Linked DNA regions of Homo sapiens: regions 1 and 3 are each linked to region 2. The links come from fine-mapping of genetic effects on gene expression. A gene starts in region 2. Each other region holds a variant in brackets. All regions are shown on one strand. Distances are between the middles of the regions.

Region 1 (6,912 bases), 90 kb before region 2:
GAGGTAAGTTTAAAGAGAAAGCTAGAGACAATGGAGAAGGGGGTGGTAAGCAGCCCTGGGCTGCAATGTGGGTGAGCAGCCAAAGCAGGCATCCCTGCAACTGACTTGCCACCAAGGGAATGTGGGTGAATGACCAAGGCAGGCATCCCCGCGGTGATCAGACACCAATGGAGTGTGGGTGAATAATCAGGCAGGTGTCCCTGCAGTGATTAAACACCAAGGGAAGAATGTCTTCCCAAGTCTGTAACTGGCACTGGAGTTTTGGGTCCACGGATAAAATGAGTCTCCTTTGTCTCTACTAGAAAGGAAAATAAGTGGAATTGGAAGGACAGGGAGATTGAAGGATAGCAAGAGAGGGAGATTGAAGGGTAGCGAGAGGCTGGAGAAGAGAGTGAAAAGACCACTTACCTGATTTGAAATTGGCGAGATGTTCCTCGGGCTGGTTGATCTGAGGACCCAAGGTCATAGGTGGATCTCCTCATGGAGTGAGGGCGATGACAGGGGACCGATCTCCTGAAGCAGTCCTCCTGTCCCGGGTCTTCGGCACCAAATGTTATGCGCGTCCGTGTGGAGAGACCACCAAACAGGCTTTGTGTGAGCAACAAAGCTGCTTATTTCACCTGGGTGCAGGTGGGCTGAGTCCGAAAAGAGAGTCAGCGAAGGGAGATGGGGTGGGGCCGTTTTATAGGATTTGGGTGGGTAGTGGAAAATTACAGTCAAAGGGGGTTTTTCTCTTACGGGCAGGGGCGGGGGTCACAAGGTGCTCAGTGGGGGTCACAAGGTGCTCAGTGGCTCTGAGCCAGGAGAAGGAATTTCACAAGGTTAATGGCTCAGTTAAGGTGGGGCAGGAACAAATCACAATGGTGGAATGTCATCACGTAAGGCAAGGAACCAGCCTTTTCACATCTTTTGTGATTCTTCACTTGCTTCAGGCCGTCTGGACGTCTAGGTGCAGGTCACAGGGGATACGATGGGTTAGCTTGGGCTCAGAGGCCTGACAAGTGTAACTATGTGGAAAGGGTGCCATGTATAAGTACTTGCGCTGGCTCCACAACCACCTAAATCAGTTTTACTCATCTGTAAAATGAACCAGTTAGACTTACTGCTTTCTAAAGACTTAAGCTGACTGAAGAAGAGTTTGTTTAAATCCATTTTATTGTTCTAAAACAGTGTTTCCCATCCTCAGCATGAATAACATTTTGGGCCAGATAATTCCTTGTTTGGGGACTGTAAAGTATATTGTCAGATATTTACAAGGGCCCATGGTCTCTACCTATTATATTCCAGGAGCATTTACCCGCTGACTTGTAACGGCAAAGACTATTTTCAGATATCAACAAATTTTTCTCAGGGAGCAAAACTGCCACTGGTTGAGAGCCACCTTCAATAGCTTCTCATTGCCTACAAAAATGCACTCATTTGCTGATTTTTAAATATTATTTATTGAGTACTTACTGGGACAAAATATAGCTAAGACTCAGTCCCTGCTTCAAGGAATTCATATTCTAAGGAGGAGGACAGACGTAATTATAATCTAATATGGCACATATAATGAGTAAGAGAGATGCAGAGGAAAAAGGGAGAAAATCATTGAGGGTGAAGATAGAGGGAGCTCAGAAATCTTTTTGGAGAAACTAGTGACGAAATGGAACATTGAAAGATCAGCAGAAATTAGCCAGGGATTCCCAGCTGAGGGGCTAGCATGAGAAAAAGCAGAGTGGTGAGAAAAACTACCCACAGCCACAGTGCTCTTTGAACCGGGGACTGGTAAGGATGAATCCCTTCAGGGACAAAGAGACCACCTCCACCCCCCAAAACTTAGCCGTGTATTATCTCTTTTAACATCCCATTCTGGGAAAGCAGTTCAGAACCCTAAAGGGTTCCCAGCCAGTGTTACTGCTGAGTCCATAATGGAGCAATACTGTCATGGAGCTCTCCAGGGTGCTGAACTATGTCCATCTGAATCCCTTTTACTCAGTAGCTTTCTACCTGGGCACCTGCCTAGGACCCTGCTCTTCCTACTTATGCTTGCTGCTCTTGGTTGATGTCATATAGTAGAAAGAGCATAGGTTTACCAATCTAAATGAACCTAACTAGGGGAGAATCAAATAAATGATCAATTATTTTTATAAATTATAAATTGTGGTGGATTCCTATGAAAGAATATTACACAATGTTTTGGTGGCCTTATAGTTGTTTTTTAAAAGTTTATTTGAAAATTTATATATTTCCTGTGATACCTATACTAAGTATACATTTCTTGGAAAAAATACTATTTAAAATAATAATAAAGAGCTTTGGAATCAAATAGACTGGGATGAGAATTCTTATTCTGCCACTTAATAGTTGTCTGACCTTGGGTCAGTTAATTTAATCTCTCTGGCCATTGTTTACTCAACTGCAAAATGACTAGAAAAGAGACAGACCTTCAATAATTCCCCAATGCCTACCATGCAGTCCACAGTGGATATTGACCAGCTCAAGTACATGCATCTACTTCTATGTTGCTAAGTAAGGGAGACACTCAGCAAATTCTTGTTTGTTATTACTTACCTCACCATTTGGATGTCCAATTTTCTACTACAGCAAAGGCAATTCTGATGTATAATGAGGTGGAAACAAGCCTTTTAGGCACAGACTGACAGTGCCCTTCCCACCTCCCATTCTTGGGCCCTTCATTAGAAACAGTGCTCTGGAAAAGAACTGACTCTGAATTATAATGCCCATGCCATTTCCACACTTGGCTCCCAGTAAATTAGCATCTAGACCCTTACCCTCATGGCAAGATACTGTAAGACCATTCCTTGGGTAACTAACCATCTGGAGAATAAATACCTAAAGATATTGGGTGTTCTCCAAACAAACAGCGCAGCCAGATAACCCTACTTTGAAGCTAAGTTGACAGGCCTCGCCCACTTGCTGAGAATTTCCTATTAGTTTTTTTTTTTTTTAGCTGTCTATTCGTTATCATGAGCATACAGTCAAGTTTTACATATAAGGAAAAGCTCTAATATGGAAGAAAAAACAATTTGGCAGAAACAAAAACTATGCAGGAAAATTTTATTTCCCAAATAAATTTTATAATCAATATTCATTGAGAAGTAAAAGAAATTCCATGAAACAAGAACAGTATGCTATAAAAAAGGAATACTTAAGGAGATTACAAAGCTCTTAAAAATTAAAAAAAGATAAGGAAAATGAAAAACCCTGAGAAGGAAGAAATATTGAAGAAATATCACCTCATTTCCATCTCCCTCCTCATAAAGAGCAAAAATATACAGAAAGAAACTAAAAGGAAACAGATGAAACTGAATAGAAGACCAGTCACGAAGTTTCAATACTGCAATAATAGAAATTCTAAAAAGAGAGAACAGAGAAAATGGGGAAGGGAAGACCCACTCATGACCTTGTCTACCTATTCCTCCAGGAGAGGCTCTTGTAAACCCTTGGGGAAGATGAAACCAGATTACCCAGACACTCTGTTCAGCTTATCTCTCTCCTGGGCACCTTTATAAAATAGGCAACACTACCCTTTAATTCTCAGCTAGATTTGTGCTTCTACTTAATATACATTGTTATGAGATATATACCTAGGTGGTAAAACTATAACGAAAATCAGGATGGGGCCAAGTGTGGTGGTTAATGCCT[T/G]TAAGCTGAGGTGGGAGGATTACTTGAGCAGCCCAGGAGTTTGAGACCAGCCTGGGCAATATACTTTATAGAGACCTGATCTCTATAAAATTTTTTTTTAAAGTTATCTGGGTGTAGCGCTGTGCAACTGTAGTCCCAGCTACTTGGGAGCCTGAGGTGAGAGGATCGATTGAGCCTGGGAGGTTGAGGCTACAGTGAGCTGCGGTCATGCCACTGCCCTCTGGGCTGGGCAACGGAGTGAGACCTTGTGTCAACAACAAGAAAAAATAATCAAGATAAACATGAGCACAAAAATCAAGACAGTGTTTACCTCTGGGGAGGAAGCTGGAGGTTTTATTTAGAAAGGGGCATTTGGAGGACTTCTAAGGTTAGTGTTCTAAGGTTAGTGTTCACTTTCTTAACTTTTGTAGTAAATACATAGGTATTAAATGTACTATATTTTAAACTCTACATATATCTCAAATACTCTTTTATACATACGATACACTTCACAATAAAAACTTCCATACCAAGAAGACACCAAAACAAACCTACCTTGTGAAGTAATAAGATTATATGTTCCCATGTACTGTGTAGTCTTTGAACAGAGGGAAATAGGAAAGGGGGTGCAAGAGCTCTCCCTCTTCTAGAGGCCTAATCAGGGGTGGCAGTAATCACAATAAAATACCCGACCAGCAGCACAATGCTGATTTTCAGACCTGTTTAATAGATACATTTTACAGTGGTTAGAATCCTATTGTAATAGCCTGGAGTCCATGAAAAACAGCTCTGCTGAGACCGGCAGTTAAAAACCATCCCCTAAGCTGTTAGTGAGAGGGTAGGTGGCTGTGTATTCTTTCTTTGCCCACTCTGATCCATTCTCTGCCCTTTCCACCTTGCTCTCTGCCCCAGGGGCTGACTTCTATGCACATCACCCACGGTCCTCTGTTCCTTGACTATCTGGGTTTTGCCAGTGGGAGGCACTGGCAGGAAATCAGAGGGGAGAAGGAAAGAGAAGTGAAGGGTATTTCCTCCCCTCTGCCTCATCATCCCTTGTTGTTTCTCTTAACCCCATACAGCCCGCCAAAAATAGTCCCTTATTACATTATTTTCAGTTAAATCCTTTTCATTATGTCTTTCGTATCTTGCCAGGACCCTGGCTGCTACATTATTTTAGTAGTTATATGTCCCTGCCCAGTGATCCTTTTTTATGTTAATGTGGATTTTGAGGTCCAAACTAGTCTTTAGAATTCCAAATAAGTACCTCTACTGGGGTGGCATTGCAGGCAGTATTCCAGAGACGTTCCCATGTGTGCTCTCAAATCAGACTGTGCAGTTGTGTTGTCTCCACAAGCAGCCTTGTCCAAGGGAAGATATGCATCTAAAAGCATCTCCCTCCAATGGGTGTCTGCAGCGCTAGCTTTTTCTGGAAAGGGTACACATTGGTTTAATACTTGATGAATTATACTGCTAGCTAAGGATGGAAAGGTCTGGGAGGATTTGCCTCTGGCTTGTGGAATTTGAATTCTGTCCCTGTCTCCACCCAGGCACTGGCAGGGATGCACAGTTCTCACCAGCATCCTTGCTGGTTTCTTTAAGAGATGACCTTTTCGTTTCCTATCATGGAATGAGTCGTCACTCATTCCACTCTTAGCATCTCTCATCATCTTCCTGTGGCCCTTCCCTTCTGAAGATCAAAGCTCATCTCAGGAGAAACTCCAGAGGGAAAAATAGCCAACAGAACCTCAGGCCCAGGCAGGAAAAGCAAGTAAACAAGTGATTGACGCACTTTGTACACAGGCTCTGAGGGAGGGGGGTGAGTGTGAGGAGGGGAAGTTGAGGAAGCTGTCCAGGATGGGGGCGGAGTCCCGGAGGGCTTGGGTAACAGCTCATTGTTCCTCAGGGCTCCTAGGGAATAAGGTAGGGCTCCAGCAAAACAAATGTGCCAGGAGGACAGGCTATTTGTGTTGATAAACACAAAAAGAGGGAAGTGACTAGATGGAGGGAGGGTGCGTTTGAATGGAATGTGCCTGATTCTGGGAATCTGTACACTTGGCTCCTAGGGGACATGGGAGGAAGAGGGAGAAGGCACTGGGACAAAAGGAGACAGCATTGAGTACCGTTAAACATGCAGGACTGAGAGGTGGGCAGAGCTGGGTTCAAATCCTGGGCCCTCGCTTTCCTAGCTATGTAACTTGGACCTATTGTTTGATTTCTCCGGGCCTCGGTTTCATTATGTGTGAAATGGGAATGGTTCTTTCTCACCCTTAGGTTTCCTTGAAGACTTAGTAAGACAATGTACTTTAGGTGTCTGACACATGGAAATTTCCCCCCAAAAAAGTTTATTGTTGTTAGAAAGATGTTGTATCAGCGAGGGAGGAAGCGGTGTGCTGTGGGGAGGCAGCACTGCATTGTCAAGTTCCTGGGTTGAGTGAAGGCTCTGCCCCTAGCCATTGTGGGCGCCTGAGCAGGTACTCATCTCATCTCAGCTCATCTCCGGAGCTGAGGGTGCCTCCCGGGAATGACGGTGCTGAACAAGCGGATCTCCAGGGTTCATTCTAGTGCCTAAAGCCTGGGTTCTAAAGAACTATAACCAAAGCATGACTAGGAAATTCTCTGATTTAAAACAAAAATAATGCAGACACAGCCAAGTGAGGTTTGTGCCCATTAGAGAAGTCTCTTTGGAAATTTTACTCTTATGATAGTGGTGCTGCCGTTTCTCCAAACATATTCAGAATGGTTTAGAATTATCTGCAGAGCCAGTTCTGGGACCACATAAGACAATCATCTCATCGCTTTAGAGGAAACAAATGTCTTCTTTCTTTTTGTTTATTTTTATTTTTTATTTTTATCCAAAAAAAGGCTCTCATTCCCTTAAGGCAAGTTAGATTCCAGTTTCAGTTTTGTGAACTACTGGAGGATTGTAACTTCATCTCTTTTATCCTTAATTTCTACCTATAGAAATTGGGAATAATAATATCCACCTCAGAGCGTGGACACAGATAAGACAAGGACGCAGAAAGCAGTACCAAGCAAGATGCTGGGCTCAGGGTAGGTGGTAAAACACATGCATATGGGCCAGGCGTGGTTGCTTACGCCTGTAATCCCAGCACTGTGGGAGGCCGAGGCAGGCAGATCACGAGGTCAAGAGATGGAGACCATCCTGGCCAAAATGGTGAAACCCCGTCTCTACTAAAAATACAAAAATTAACTGGGCATGGTGGCGCACATGTAGTCCCAGCTACTCACGAGGCTGAGGCAGGAGAATTGCATGAACCCAGGAGG
Region 2 (6,912 bases):
TAATTTTCCTCATTTATGAGGTGGCCTGCAAGATTAAATTAAAATAAGAATGTATATAAAGTGCTTATTCAAAGTGGTCTGGTGCACGGTGGGCTCTCAAATCCTTCCTGTTTCTGATCACTGCCCACCAGAGGCAGAAGGTTGAGAAGGGCTGTCCTTCCTCCCCTTCAATCACACCCCCACTGTTTTTGGTGGGACAGGGGTTGGGGACTTCCAAAATGAGAAGCGCAGAGGGGTGGACTGATGTATTACTTCAGTAACAGAGGTGCTGGGTCAGCCAGGCAACAACACAGGAGACGCCTGTATGCCATTACCTGTGCTAGGGGAAATAGAAAATAGAATTTTCCAGCAGATCAGGGTCCAGCTGAACCAATTTCCTAAGCTCAGTTACAGAGCAACAATCTTCACAGGCCCAAGAGGGAGGTGCAAGCTCCTGGGGCAGACTGCCTGGTCATTGCCCCTCCCCGTCCCGCCCCATAGGCTGTGCCTCCTGTGGTGTCCCTGTGGCCATTCTATCTTCTCTGGGCTTCAGCTTGCTTACTTGAATACATACTGTAAAGAGTACCTGAAATAAGGCAGGTAGGTAAAGCTGCCTTCCTCAATAAATGCTAAGGTCAGGAGACCTGTTCACTTTTTATAGACATCTTGCCTAATGTTTCTACTCTATTGGAGCCTCACCAAACACTCATTTTGCAGATGAGGAAAGGAAGGCAAAGTTAAGTTACATGGCTTGATGGGTAAATGGCCGAGCCAGATGGCAAAACCAGCCTGTGCCCTCTCTCATAAAATGAGGATAATAGCACCCACAATGCCCAACACAGAGTAGGTGTGCTGTAAATGTTAACTTCCCTTGTGTGAGTCTGCAATTTAGGAAGAGGTTGGGAGAATGAGTCACCAAAGATCTTGCTTGAGAGCAAGGGTTCAAGATGGTTCTGAAGACAGGAAAGAGGACGATCACGTGGTCCCAGGCTGGCGGGTCACTGAGCACTTGAAAGTCAGCCTGCACCTCACTTCAACCACAGCGGAGGGAAGGAAGTATCTGACAATTCGGGGGGTATTTCTAAAGAAAGTTGACTTAACTCCCTTTCTCACACATTTGAAAGAGCACACACAACTTTCAGGGTAAGAGAAACCCCAACTCAGACTGCACCCCATCTCTTCCAACAATCTTTGTCCCACCCCTGGTTGTACCCCAGGAATTCCTAGCTAGGGGCTCCTTCATGATTCCAAGGTGATTCAGAACCAGCTAAAACACAGAGCGTCAGGTGGAAAATGCCCAAGCAGCCAGATGGGAAAGAAGATTTTTGAGTTTTCATTTTTCCTTAAACCAATATCCTGAGGCCTGAGGCAGTACCCCAAGTCACAAGAAAGCAGAGCAAGGCAGATTTCTGCAGATTAAAACTGATGTCAGCAAATGCTTCTACTTGTCCATTTTCATTTCTTGGGGTTTTTCCTATGACGGGAAGGGACTCGCCCAGTTGGGGTTGGTTTGGGAGTTTCTTTGGCCGGGGATGAGGACAGGGCTGTCCTTGTTCAAGAACTTATCTATAATAGCCTCCAAAGCAGACTGGCTTGATGCCCAAGTCCTTTTTCTAAAAATTACCTGCCCATTACTTTTTTTTGGTAGGGGGGTAAATGTTGACAGATTTAACAGGACTGCTAAATAAGAGGCATTTTGTTTGTTCAAATACCTTAAGAAGCCGTCTAGCCTCCAAAGCTATGACCACCAGCTGCACCCGGCTGCCTAACCCCTGGACCCCGCCCCCCCCGCCGTATGCCCCGCCAGCCTTTCCCTTTGCCTTGTGTTTTGAAGTTTATTTTCCCACATTTAGCCTTGAATTCTTTCCTTCCTTCCCCTGCAGTGTTGGAGCAACAGCTTAGAGGGAAACACTTCGAGGGCAGCTCAAGGCTTTATCATCCTTGCCTGCCCTCTTCCCCCTCTAAACAAAGCCCTGGAACAAACTAAACAAAAACTTGTTCTCTAGAGGAATTGTTTCCTCAAGGGAAATCATAAAGCAACCCCCTCCCCACAACACACCCCCCAGGGTAGACGCCCATCAGAAGGAAGCCATGTAGACTCTTCATGCCAGGACTCTTGCTGTTAGGAGGTAAACCAACCAACCATCTACTGAAGCTTATCCTCCCCACCATCACCTCCCATCTGCCTCTACCCGGGAAACTGCTACAGGGCAAGAGACTCTCCACTAAAATCCAACACTAAGCCTGCTAGACTAAACCTCCCCTTCTACAGGACCCCTTGGAGGACAAGTCTCCCCACACACGGCTGCCAGCAAATACGTATATGCTTATCTGTGTGATGTCCATCAATCTGGGGACAAGATTTTGATGTTTTCCAAATGCTTCCAACCTAACAGTCCGTGGCAGAAATAAGGAATGAGGATGGGCTCATTCCCGTTTCTCACATGGGGAAACGGAGGCTGGAAAATGAGCGACGACTAGATAGGCATAAAGTATTGAGGTGCTGCTGTAGACTAAACGTTGCTTCTCATCAGACCTCCTTTCTGGCATCTTTCACCCTGAGAGCAAGGTAACACCCTGGACAATCTACCCCTACTCCCTACCTGCTGCAATCTAGAACTTTCACCCAGGTCCTGGTCATTCCACTGGGGGAGCAGGCCAAGAAGAGTTGATGGTTGAAGCTGAGCCCTCGAGAAACTGGGGTAGAGGGCCTCGGTCCCCAAATGGGCCCCAAGGTCTCAGCCAGGATAGGCAGCCCGTTTATCCAAAGTGAGGTCAATGCCACCCATCGGGCTGTGCACCAGAAAATAAGCGGTTCCCAATGTCAGCACGGAGGGAAGTCCCCCACCCACCCCAATTCCGCACACACTCTCCTCCCCCATCATAAAGGGACTACGCGGGTATTATTCGTTTGTGCAACCTGCTACTTTCACAAAGTTTTACTCCAAGCCCTTGAAGGATGTCTCCGCGAGATAAGCCTTCCCGGAAGCCTGAGCGCGTCCCCAGCATTCCAGGCACCAGCCCTCATCCCGTGGGTTCGGGCCCCACAGAGCCTCCAGCTCCTCTCCGGAACTCTGCTGGGGGCGGAAGATTTTGCCCAGGCTCGGGCTGAGGGACCCTCCCGCCACTCTGCCGGGTTCACGTTCCTTAAGAAAAGCCTGGCAGGCGTGGCACTGGCCCTGGAGCGGGGAGGTGGAGACACGAGGGGATGGCACCAGGCTTGGCTCCCAGACTCCGGGAGCGTCTCCAGGGAAAGATAAACGCCTTTATCCGTCCCACAGCCTCTTCCCAAGGAGGGAGGTACCGTCACACCCACACTGAAACACCGTGGAGCCTAGTTCACCCGGGAATCAACTCCAATTTGTCTCCGGCCAAACTAAGTTCCAAAGAGTCTCCGCGCCTGGGGGACCCCTGTGTCCCTCGGGTGAGCGACAGATCCTCGAAGCCTGACCCATGATGAGACACGCTCTCTCATCACCCCCTGGACCTTCCACAGGGACTGAGGGTCACCCAAAGCTGTGAAGGGGTCTTCCTTTCAGCGCCCCCTAAAGCTCAAGCCAGCTTCAGATGTATATGGGGGTACAGGCGGCGACTGACCTCTAGGATCTTGTCCAGGCCCTCCTGACCCAGGCACGGGAACTCCTTGAGCAGATGCAGCTTCTGTGTGTAGTAGTTTTTCTTGGCCTCCTTCCAGTGTGGCTCCTCCAGCACTTCGAAGATCGCCGCCCCGATGGCCAGGTAGAAGATGATGGCCGAGGTGAGCAGAGGGCCCCGGTCCACCATGGCTCCCGAGCGGCCGCCTCCTAGAGAAAGCCTCTCCTAGCCCCAGCTGCTACCAGTCCGCCCGCCCTCCAGCCTCTGAAAACAGCTGTTTGAATTTGGAGCTCCGCATGCGCAGTGCCCGGTACTCACCCCCCGCAAGCACCGCTCCCCGGACAGAGTTGCTTGGCCAAGTTGGCCCACGGAGTGCGGGGAGCTGCGTGGGGCCCCACTCACGCGGCCCGGGGTGGGCGAACACCAGCGGGGCTGAAAGGGCGCCCTGGACCGCGGATGCGTAAGGAGCGGGAAGAACACAGGACTTGACTCTGGGCAGACACGTGGGCCGCTTCTCCACGCGTCGCTCCTCCGCGCGCCACTAGCAGTATGCGCCGCGCCCGCCTCCGCACGCCTCTTTAACCAGCGCCCGGCGCGCTCTGCCCCCTTGCTCCGGGCTCCGACCGGGGAGGAGCCCAGGCGGGCCCCGCCCCTTCCCCGCACAAGCAGCCCGGCGAGCGCAGGAGTGAGCGCGAGGTGAGCGCTAGAAGAGGCTTGGCGCTCCCCGCGCTCCCAGGGTCAGCCGCCAGGGGAGGCTGCGCCGCCCGCCCAGACCTGCACGCCCTGCGGTGCCCGAGGGGTTGCGGTCTCAGGGACTCGTGTTTGTTATTAGGACTGGCGTGTTAACTAAAATGATTGTGACTGAGGTCAGGAGTTTATTGCTTTTGTTATTTTTATTGTAATTCCATTTTCATTTACTGATGTTTCTTCCAAAAAAGTCTAATGCTCAGTCTCTCCGTGTCTCTCTTCCACACACTTTCTTGTAAGCCTGAGGAAGGGGGTTAGAACGGGGCTGAAGAAGCTGTAGGGAATCAGAGGACATCAGGAACTAATCCAGCCACCCACGCGTGATTCCTCCCCCTCACCCCGTTCTCACCTACCCGGGTGAGAACCCTGCATCTGGAAGGAGTGGGCAGCTCAATTCGTGGCACCCCTGTGCGCCCCCCCAATACACAGTATCTCTACGGGAAACACTTGGCCTCTTTTCTTTTTTTCTTTTCTCTTTTCTTTTCTCTTCTCCTTTCCTCTCCTTTCCTCTTTTCTTTCAGACGGAGTCTCACTCTGTCGCCAGGCTGGAGTGCAGTGGCACTATCTCGGCTCACTGCAACCCCCGCCTCCCGAGTTCAAGCAGTTCTTCTGCCTCAGCCTCTCAAGAAGCTGGGACTACAGGCGCACGCCATCACGCCCAGCTAATTTTTGTATTTTTAGTAGAGACGGGGTTTCACCGTGTTGGCCAGGCTGGTCTCAATTCCTGACCTCAGGTGATCCGCCCGCCTCAGCCTCCCAAAGTGCTGGGATTACAGGCGTGAGCCACCGCGCCCGGCCCACTTTCATACATATGCTCCAGCTGATTTAAAATTCCACCCCCGCCACCTTATCTCCCTCGTTGGCTTTATGTCCTTCCTAGTACTAAATTCCCTCTGCTATATTATATAACTTTATTTATTGTTTACTCTGTATTGTGCCCTCTCCCCGCCACACACACACAGACACACACACACACACACACACACACACACACACACGGAAATGTCTGCTGGGGAGATGGAGAATCTGTCTTGTGTAATGATGTATCCACAGTGCTTGTTACATACATAGCAGACACTCAATAACCATGTGTGCAATGAAGGAGTGAATGAATTTGTTAAAAACAGGTGCCCAGGATGTTTCTAACTCGCCTTGCTGCCATTCTCTGAGCTCTTGTAAACCCCAGGAAGTACTGAATCCCTTCCATGCATCATAAGCAGGCCCTGTCATTCGACCCACTTTGCAGTGAGGAAAAAAGCTCAGTGGGTTAGTTTGTTCAGTCTTTCAACCAGCACCAGTCAGAAGTTGGAGGGGGAACCTCCTTTCAGTGCTCTGTACCAGGGGCTGGCCCTGCCCTTCTCTGGCCTCTGTAGGGGCAGGTACTGGAGTGGCCAGAGTCCCTGAGCACTGTCCCCTGGCCAAGGCCTTTTCTTTCCATCGAGAAGAAGGGGAGTCATTTCTCACCTCCTACCCACCCTGTACCCAGGCTGTGGCCTGAACCCCAAGGTGTCAAGAGACACTTTACTTGGGGAGGGGGGTATCTGTACTATCTCCAAATCTGGCTGGAATGGAGGGGTTAGGGATACAGTTGGAAGCATTGATCTGATTTTGCTGATGTTTCTGTCTCTCCTTATGGCAACATGAGCGTGTCCAGAGAAGAAGACCAGAGCAGGAAGCTGGGGAGCCCCAGATTTCCTGATACTGCATCCCTGAGGTGTGCAGTGCCAGTCCCCTCAGGACCCCCCTGGCCAAGGATCATCCTGGACAAGGCCCTGGGGGTGCTTCTCTGTAGACAACCCACTCCCAGCACCAGGCCTCTCACCCAACCCAACATATCCATCTTCTCTAAGCCTTGCTGACCTCCTGCCTACCCTGTCCCCCAGGCTGTGGCCTGAACCCTAGCTCTGCAGTCTCATTCTCCAGCCCTCCAGCTGGGATGGAAACCAAGCATGGGTTCCGGATCCCCCCTCTCTGGATGGAGTTCACCCTGTTTGTGAAGAGTTCAGGGCTGCAGTGTGAACGCTTCAGTGAGCATGGGGTGGGGGCAGTTTGAGAGGCCACAGGCCCTCTCTTTGTTTGGAAAATTCCCTACCATTCCTCTCCCACCTCCGGTCTGTGTTCTCTTCCTAAGAAAATAAAGGGCCTCTTCCTATTTCGGTCTCACAGCCTCATGAAAATGCTGAACACTTTGAGATGAATTGATTTTTATTCGAGGCCTCTGTATGTTGTAGTTTCTTTGTCCTTCCACTCTGTTTCTGCATTTCCTGTCCCCTTCTTCCTTCTTGCTCTCCATGTGGTGCTGACTGACTCCTCATCCTCTCCTTCTGTCGCCGCATCCTTTGCTTTCCTGTATTTTTCCAAAGCTCCTTCCCCAGCTCTTCATTCTCCCTCCTCCTGCCTCTCTCCTTTGTCTCCATCCCAGTTGAATGTGCTTCCCCTCCCCCAACTTCCCCTCCCCTCCCCATCTCCCCACTCCCCTCTCCAACTCCCCTGCCCCAGCCAGATAGTTGGATCAACTTGACCTTCTGTAGATCAGGGGCACACACCTGCTCTCTGCACAGCAGCCAGTGGGGGCTTTTATAAAATGTAAAC
Region 3 (6,912 bases), 110 kb before region 2:
AACAGCTAGCCAGCTAATCCAAGAATAATGAAAGACATCTAGGTTGTGGTCACCTGGCTGACCCAGAGACTTGCAGTTTAAAGCTGAGCTGCCCAACTGAGCACAGCCTCAAATAGCTAACCCCCAGCTTACCCTAAAATGTATGAAAACAAATGCTTATTTTACATAACTGAAATTTTGCAGTTGCATGTTACACAGCAAATGCTAACCAATACATACATACCCAATACCCAAGAAGAACATTTTAAGTTCCCTGTGTCCCTGTATGCTCATTCTTGATTCCCCACTCCTTTAATCTATTAGTGTGGTGGGGTATAGTAATCGATTTTCTGTTGTTAAATCATCCTCCATTCATGGAATAAATAAAACTCAAATCACTTTATAAAACATAAAACTCAAAGCTAAATTCAGTTTGAGAATTTTCTAGAAATTTTACATCTTTTGTTCATTAGTGAGATTTTCCTATAATTTTCTTTTCATGTGCTGTCCTCAATTTTAGATAGATTTTGCTAGCCTTATGAAATAAGCTGAAGTGTGCCTCCATCTTCCACACCCCCCACCCAAATTTTCTAGAACAGTTTGAACAAAATAGGAATTAACTGTTTCTTTAATATTTTGGTCGGACTTAGTAGTAAAACCATCTGGACCTGGTGTTTCCTTGTATCAGGTAAATAAATGTAATCTACAATTAACTGGATTCATAGCTGGTCAATTCACCCTTACCCAAAAAGGGTCAAGAAATGGATCAACATTGCTCTGTCCTGTTTGATATTTTTAGGAGTGTCTTGGGTGAAAATATGAGAGAGAATTTATCGTTTATTCAGGTGACAAAAATTTGGTAGAGAAGATCTGCAGTTATGCCTTTAGGGTAAAAAATAAACCAAAATGAATTTGATTCAATTTATTACGATTAAAGCATTGTGGGGATGCTCAGAGGGAACTGTGCTTCCTTCTAGATTTGCATTTATGTTTTTATATTATTGTTTTTGTTTCTTAATCATTGGCTTGGGAGCAATTTGTTTCAATAGGACTTGGAGCCTTTCCCTGACCACAGACTGGGTAGGAGGAGGGTTATATGGGGAATGTTTCAGCTGCTACTATGAATCCCATTTTCAAAGTGAGAGAGGATATAGTTTTTTTTTTTTTGAGACAGTCTCACTCTGTCACCCAGGTTGGAGTACAGCGGCACGATCTCAGCTCACTGCAACCTCCGCTTCTCGGGTTCAAGCGATTCTCGTGTCTCAGCCTCCCAAGTAGCTGGGACTACAGGCACGAGCCGCCACACCTGGCTAATTTTTTATATTTTTTGTAGAGATGGGGTTTTGCCATGTTGGCCAGGCTGGTCTTGAACTCCTCACCTCAGGTGATCTGCCTTCCTCAGCCTCCCAAAGTGCTGGGATTACAGGCATGAGCCACTGCACCCAGCCCAAGGATGTATTCTTGATACCCCCATGTATTCATGCTCTCTTTGGTCCTATCCTTGCAGGTACCACATACCAAGTTCTGAGCACTATGCTTTATATGACAAACCATATAAAGCAGAGGGGGGTAGCCTGGATAATGATGTGTCTAGAGCAGGATTTCTCAGCCTTGGCACTTTTGATGTTTTGGGCCAGAAAATCGTTGTGGGGGTTGTCCTGTGTCTCGTAGGATTCTTAGCAGCATCCTGGCCACCACCCACTAGTTGCCGGTAGCTTCTCCCTTAGATGTAACAACCAAAAATGTCTCTAGATAATGCCAAATGCCTCCTAAGAGGCAAGTTTGCCCCTGGTTGAGAACCACTGGTCTAAAGACCACATTGTAGTAAGAATGGTAAAGGCAGTGAGTGATTTGGGCCAGAGAGGGAGATTCACGGTGAAAACATACCAGTTTGTTTTAGAAACTCTGTTAGAAGTGCTGTTGTGGCCCTCTGGGCGACTATCTTCCAGTCTTCCAACAGGCTAGACAGGAAATTCGCCAGGCTGCTAATCTTCTCTTGCCTACTCCAGATTCCCAGCCATATGAAGACACCCTAGCTGGACGATCAGTTCTTGTTAAGAATCTGACCCCTCAAACTCTACAACCTCGATGGACCAGACCCTCCTTAGTCATCCATAGTACCCCAATTGCAGTCTGCCTGCAGGACCCTCCCCATTGGGTTCACTGTTCCAGAATAAAACTGTGTCCATTGGACAGCCAACCTGATTTCTCCTCTTCCTCCTGGAAGTCACAGGTACTCTCCCCTACTTCCCTTAAACTCACTCGAATTTCTGAAGAACGTAATAACCCTCATGAGCCTAATACATCCCTTCATTCTATTAAGTCTATTCATCCTTACCCTCCTTTTTGCAACAGGGCTTTACGCAGTCACCCCCACTACTTGGACTGCGCCCCAAAAACTTGTCATCCCTACTATCTTCTGTCTAGTCATACTCCTATTCACCATTCTCAACTGCTTATAAATGCCCTGCTCTTGTTTACACTGCCAGTTTACACTGTTTCTCCAAGCCATCACAGCTGATATCTCCTGGTGCTATCCCCAAACTGCCACTCTTAACTCCCTCTTAGAGTGGATAGATGATCTTTGCTGGCAGGGCACCCTCCAATACTTTCACCCTGATAAAGTCCTATTCCTTAGTTTTATACTCTTATTCTCGTTCCCATTCTTATGCTACCCTCTACCTCTCCCCAGCTATCTCCACCATACTATCAATCTCAGTCACTCTTTCCTAGCCGTTTCTAGTCCTTTTTTAACAAACAATTGCTGGCTTTGCATTTCTCTTTCCTCCAGGATCGCCAAGGCCTCGACTTACTCACTGCTAAAAAAGGAGACTCTGTATATTTTTAAATGAAGAGTGTTGTTTTTACCTAAATCAATCTGGCCTGGTATATGACAACATAAAAAACTCAAGGATAGAGCCCAAAAACTAGCCAACCAAGCAAATAATTATGCTGAACCCCCTTGGGCACTCTCTAATTGGATGTCCTGGGTCCTCCCAATTCTTAGTCCTTTAATACCTGTTTTTCTCCTTCTCTTATTCGGACCTTGTGTCTTCCGCTTAGTTTCTCAATTCATACAAAACCGCATACAGGCCATCACCAATAATTCTATATAACAAATGCTCCTTCTAACAACCCCACAATATCACCCCTTACCCCAAAATCTTGCTTCAGTTTAATCTCTCCCACTCTAGGTTCCCATGCCGCCCCTAATCCCGCTTGAAGCAGCCCTGAGAAACATCGCCCATTATCCCCCCAAAATTTTCACCACCTCAACACTTCACCACCATTTTGTTTTGTTTTTCTTATTAATGTAAGAAGACAGGAATGTCAGGCCTCTGAGCCCAAGCTAAGCCATCATATCCCCTATGACCTGCACGTATACATCCAGATGGCCCGAAGCAACTGAAGATCCACAAAAGAAGTGAAAATAGCCTTAACTGATAACATTCCACCATTGTGATTTGTTCCTGCCCCACCCTGATAGACATATTCTCCCCCGCCCTTAAGGTACTTTGTAATATTCTCCCCTCCCCTCCCCCCACTCTTAAGAAGGTACTTTGTACACCTATCCCAAACCTGCAAGAACTAAATGATAATCCCACCACCCTTTGCTGACTCCTTTTTCGGACTCAGCCCGCCTGCATCCAGGTGAAATAAACAGCCTTGTTGCGCACGCACACACACATACACAAAAGTGCTGTTGTGGTGAAGGAGAATCATTCTGTGGGACTCCAAGGGGTAGAACTTAGTTGGAAATTACAAGATGACAACTGTGGAATCT[TAAA/T]AAAAAAAAAAAAAAATTGGCATCTCAGTTATTTCAGCAATAGAATGTGCTGCCTTGCAGAGGCAATAAGTTCCCTGACACTAGCAGTATTCAAGCAGGGACTGACTGTCTACTTGTCAGGGTACTGTAGAGGGAAATTGGAGAGCTTCATATTTCAATCCAAGTAGACTAAACTAGGAGGAAAGAATGGAAGACTTTGGGGCATTTGAGTCTAGAAGTCTTAGTTGTAGCTATGATGAGTAGCATAAGGTACCGGTATGGCTACCCATATCCCCTTAATCTCACTGTTGCTGTACATGATGATGGCTTTTTTCCCCCACTTTTTTTTTTCTTTTTAGGGACAGGGTCTTGCTCTGTTGCCCAGACCAGAGTGCCCTGGCGATTATAATTCACTGCAGTCTTGAACTCCTGGGCTCAAGCAATCCTCTGTCTGAACCTCTCAAGTAGCTGGGACTACAGGTGTGCATCACCATGCCTGGCTATTTTTTTTTTTTCTTGTAGAGACTAGTTTTTGCTATGTTGTCCGGGCTGGTCTGGAACTGTTAGCCTCAAGCTATCTTCCCACCTTGGCTCCCAGAGTGCTGGGATTACAGCCACTATGTAAGCCATTGCACCCAGCCCTGATGGCTTCTACAAGCACCTGGGGGCTTTCTCTGGCTGCAGGAGTGTGTTCAACTAGTACATGAGGCAAATTAGTAGTGGTGGGAGACTATTCCTCTCCAACCCTGAAAAAGTCTTCAACCAATTTTAGATGGGAGTTGGTGGATAAATACCCTAGCTCCCTCACTCCTTATGGGGGATGATTCTGATGTGTGTTCCCCAGAGTCTCCCAAGAGTCTTCGGTAGGAATGAGCCTCAGTTGCCCACAGCTCATTAACACACCCTATATCACCTTTCTTCCCTTTCCTGTCTCACTTCCCTGCTGCCCTATCAGTGCTCCCTAGAATCACTTTCCCAGTAAACTTCTTACATTTGAATCTTTAGCTCAGGATTTTCTACCAAGAGAATCTAAGAGCTATGCAAGACCTAAGCCTATGGACTTGCCTGAGAAAAGGGAAGTAAACTAGAGGGATGGTTGGTATTTCACATTTACAAAACCCCTACCTTGATGTTTGAAGCAAGCAAAACAGGACTTTAGACTGTCACCAAAGAAGATATTTGGAAATGGTAATAAAGAAGTTAAGAGAGAGGATGGGAAGCAGAGGGCTATAGTGCTTCAACTGAAGCAGCCTGCTTTGCACTGCTGCTGCTGGACTGCTGCTGGCAAGGTTTTTTAGCTCTCACTTTATCTTGAACTCTGCAGAGGTCAGAGTCCTAGAATAACTGATTCAGTCATTCTATGAGTCTGTCCTCCAAGGAATTTAGAGACCATTTAGTCAGCAAATATTGATGGAACACCTGTTATATGCCAGGCCCTGGACCAGGCTTTGAGGATGCAGACATGAATAAAATACAGTCCTACTGTTAGGAATTCAAGGTATAGTTAGAGAGACAGACTCACTGATAGACAGTTATAACACAGAGGTCTGGGGAACAGAGGAGGGGCACTAACTCAAGCTGGGAGTTCTTCAGATTCAAATATGGGGAAACTGAGGCCCAGAGAGGGAAAGCTGATGAGATGATATAATTCATGGGCATTGCTATAGACATTAAATATTTCTGGTGATAGTTTGATGCTTTATAATTATCTTTTGCATGAAAGGTAATGGTTCATGACCCTTCTGCCCCCACTTACTCTTGGCTTTGTGGTTACAACTGCTTTTCCTGACACTTATTGCTGGCTTGAACTTTGCCTTTTTGTAACCCCCCCGTGACTGGGATCTTGTGTTCTGAAAGAGCTCAACAGTCTCTACTATTTGTCCCCATCAGTCTGCCCAATCCTATTACCTGAAGCTTCTCCATTTTCCTCCTCTACATCTCAACTCCCTGTAAATTCCAAGATCTTAGGTTTTGACAATTTCCTAACCACCTGACTTGCCTTATGTCCAAGTTCCATTGTGCTTAGCTCTGATACTCAGAGAAATGCCTCCTGTGGCCTGCAGAACAGATGACCTAAAGCTCACAGGCTTGCAACAAAAATGATCTATATGTAAATCCCATCCCAAAACTCTCCCCCAAACTAACTGAAAGTAGTTGGAGAAGAATCTCTTTGCAGGTTGACAATGCACCTGAAGAAAACCATAGGAATTGTGTGTTTTATAAGAGCCTGCTTCCTCATGATTTTGTATGGGAATAAAGTCAGAAGGAAGGCAAGCTTTTGTCCTATAAAGTCCTTGGAAGAAATGGGCCATTTCACTAAAATACATGTACATACATCCAGAGAAGTATATTTCCTGACTCGAAAAATATCGCCTGCTTAGCCACCTCCTTGGAAGCTCCTGCTTCAGCCTTACATTTCTCTTCAACCATTGACCTTCTAGAGTCTTGACTAAACACCAGGGTTTAGGGCCCAAATATATATATATACACACACATATATATATATTTTAACCTTGAGAACCAGTTGAGTCATTCACTATTAACAACAAATTGGGCTCCTAATAATATCTGGCCTTTGTGGAGTGATTAATGTGTGCCAGACACTGTGCTGACCACTTGAAAATTATTATGTACTTTAATTTTCTCAACAACTCTTCAGGAAGGCATGTGAGCAGATTCCATAGTTTGATGTCACACAGCAAGCAACTAGCAGGACCAGGTTTTGAACCCAGGGAGTCTGACTCCAGAGCAGAGCCCAGGAACCCACTATCCTGTCTATTCTATGTGCAGATCAGTTTCAAGGTTCTGGGAAGACAAACAGGTATAAGTTGTGGTCCTCGAGTTCCAGAAAAACTTATGAAATCATGGAGAAGATGAAACAAGAATGCAAAATGAGAAATAATGCCAGAAACTATTGCTAAGTGTCTTATCAGTGGGACAGACAGAGCAGGAACTTACCAGGTAGAGGAAGAGATCAGTGAGGCAGGGGAGGTCTAAACGACTCCACGGAGAAGCATGGTATTTGGCCTTGAAAGATTGAAAGGACTTAGGTAAGCTGAGAGGAAGAAGTCAACCAAGATAAGAGGACTTTGCACACATGGGTTCAAGTCCCAGCTCTGACGTTATCTACACAATCATAGGAAAGTCACTCATTCTCCTTATTGTTC

Direction of the effects. Alleles are on the strand shown, and positions count from the first base shown. SD is a standard deviation of normalised expression in the study named. Not every link is listed here.
With allele T in place of TAAA in region 3, the expression in activated CD8 T cells of the gene that starts at base 4,126 in region 2 is lower (moderate effect, 0.59 SD a copy in Schmiedel 2018).

The links. PIP is the estimated chance that this variant, and not a neighbour inherited with it, causes the effect.
Region 1: its variant is the best candidate, but not a certain one, in a credible set for the expression of KCNK5 in whole blood (INTERVAL, PIP 0.53).
Region 3: its variant is the best candidate, but not a certain one, in a credible set for the expression of KCNK5 in activated CD8 T cells (Schmiedel 2018, PIP 0.87).

Annotation. Positions count from the first base shown.
Region 1 is chr6:39,135,521-39,142,432 of GRCh38, forward strand. No RefSeq gene overlaps it. Among named protein-coding and RNA genes, the nearest start is that of SAYSD1, 24 kb to the left of the region's middle. RefSeq lists a silencer at 1,830-2,030. The variant T/G (reference allele first, on the strand shown) is at 3,649.
Region 2 is chr6:39,225,350-39,232,261 of GRCh38, forward strand. It overlaps KCNK5 (potassium two pore domain channel subfamily K member 5), which reads right to left and starts at 4,126. Exons shown (of 5, transcript NM_003740.4): 1 at 3,577-4,126. The coding sequence starts at 3,762. RefSeq lists enhancers at 324-618, 4,704-5,431 and silencers at 2,804-2,873, 3,887-3,966, 4,067-4,416.
Region 3 is chr6:39,119,228-39,126,139 of GRCh38, forward strand. No RefSeq gene overlaps it. Among named protein-coding and RNA genes, the nearest start is that of SAYSD1, 7.5 kb to the left of the region's middle. The variant TAAA/T (reference allele first, on the strand shown) is at 3,764.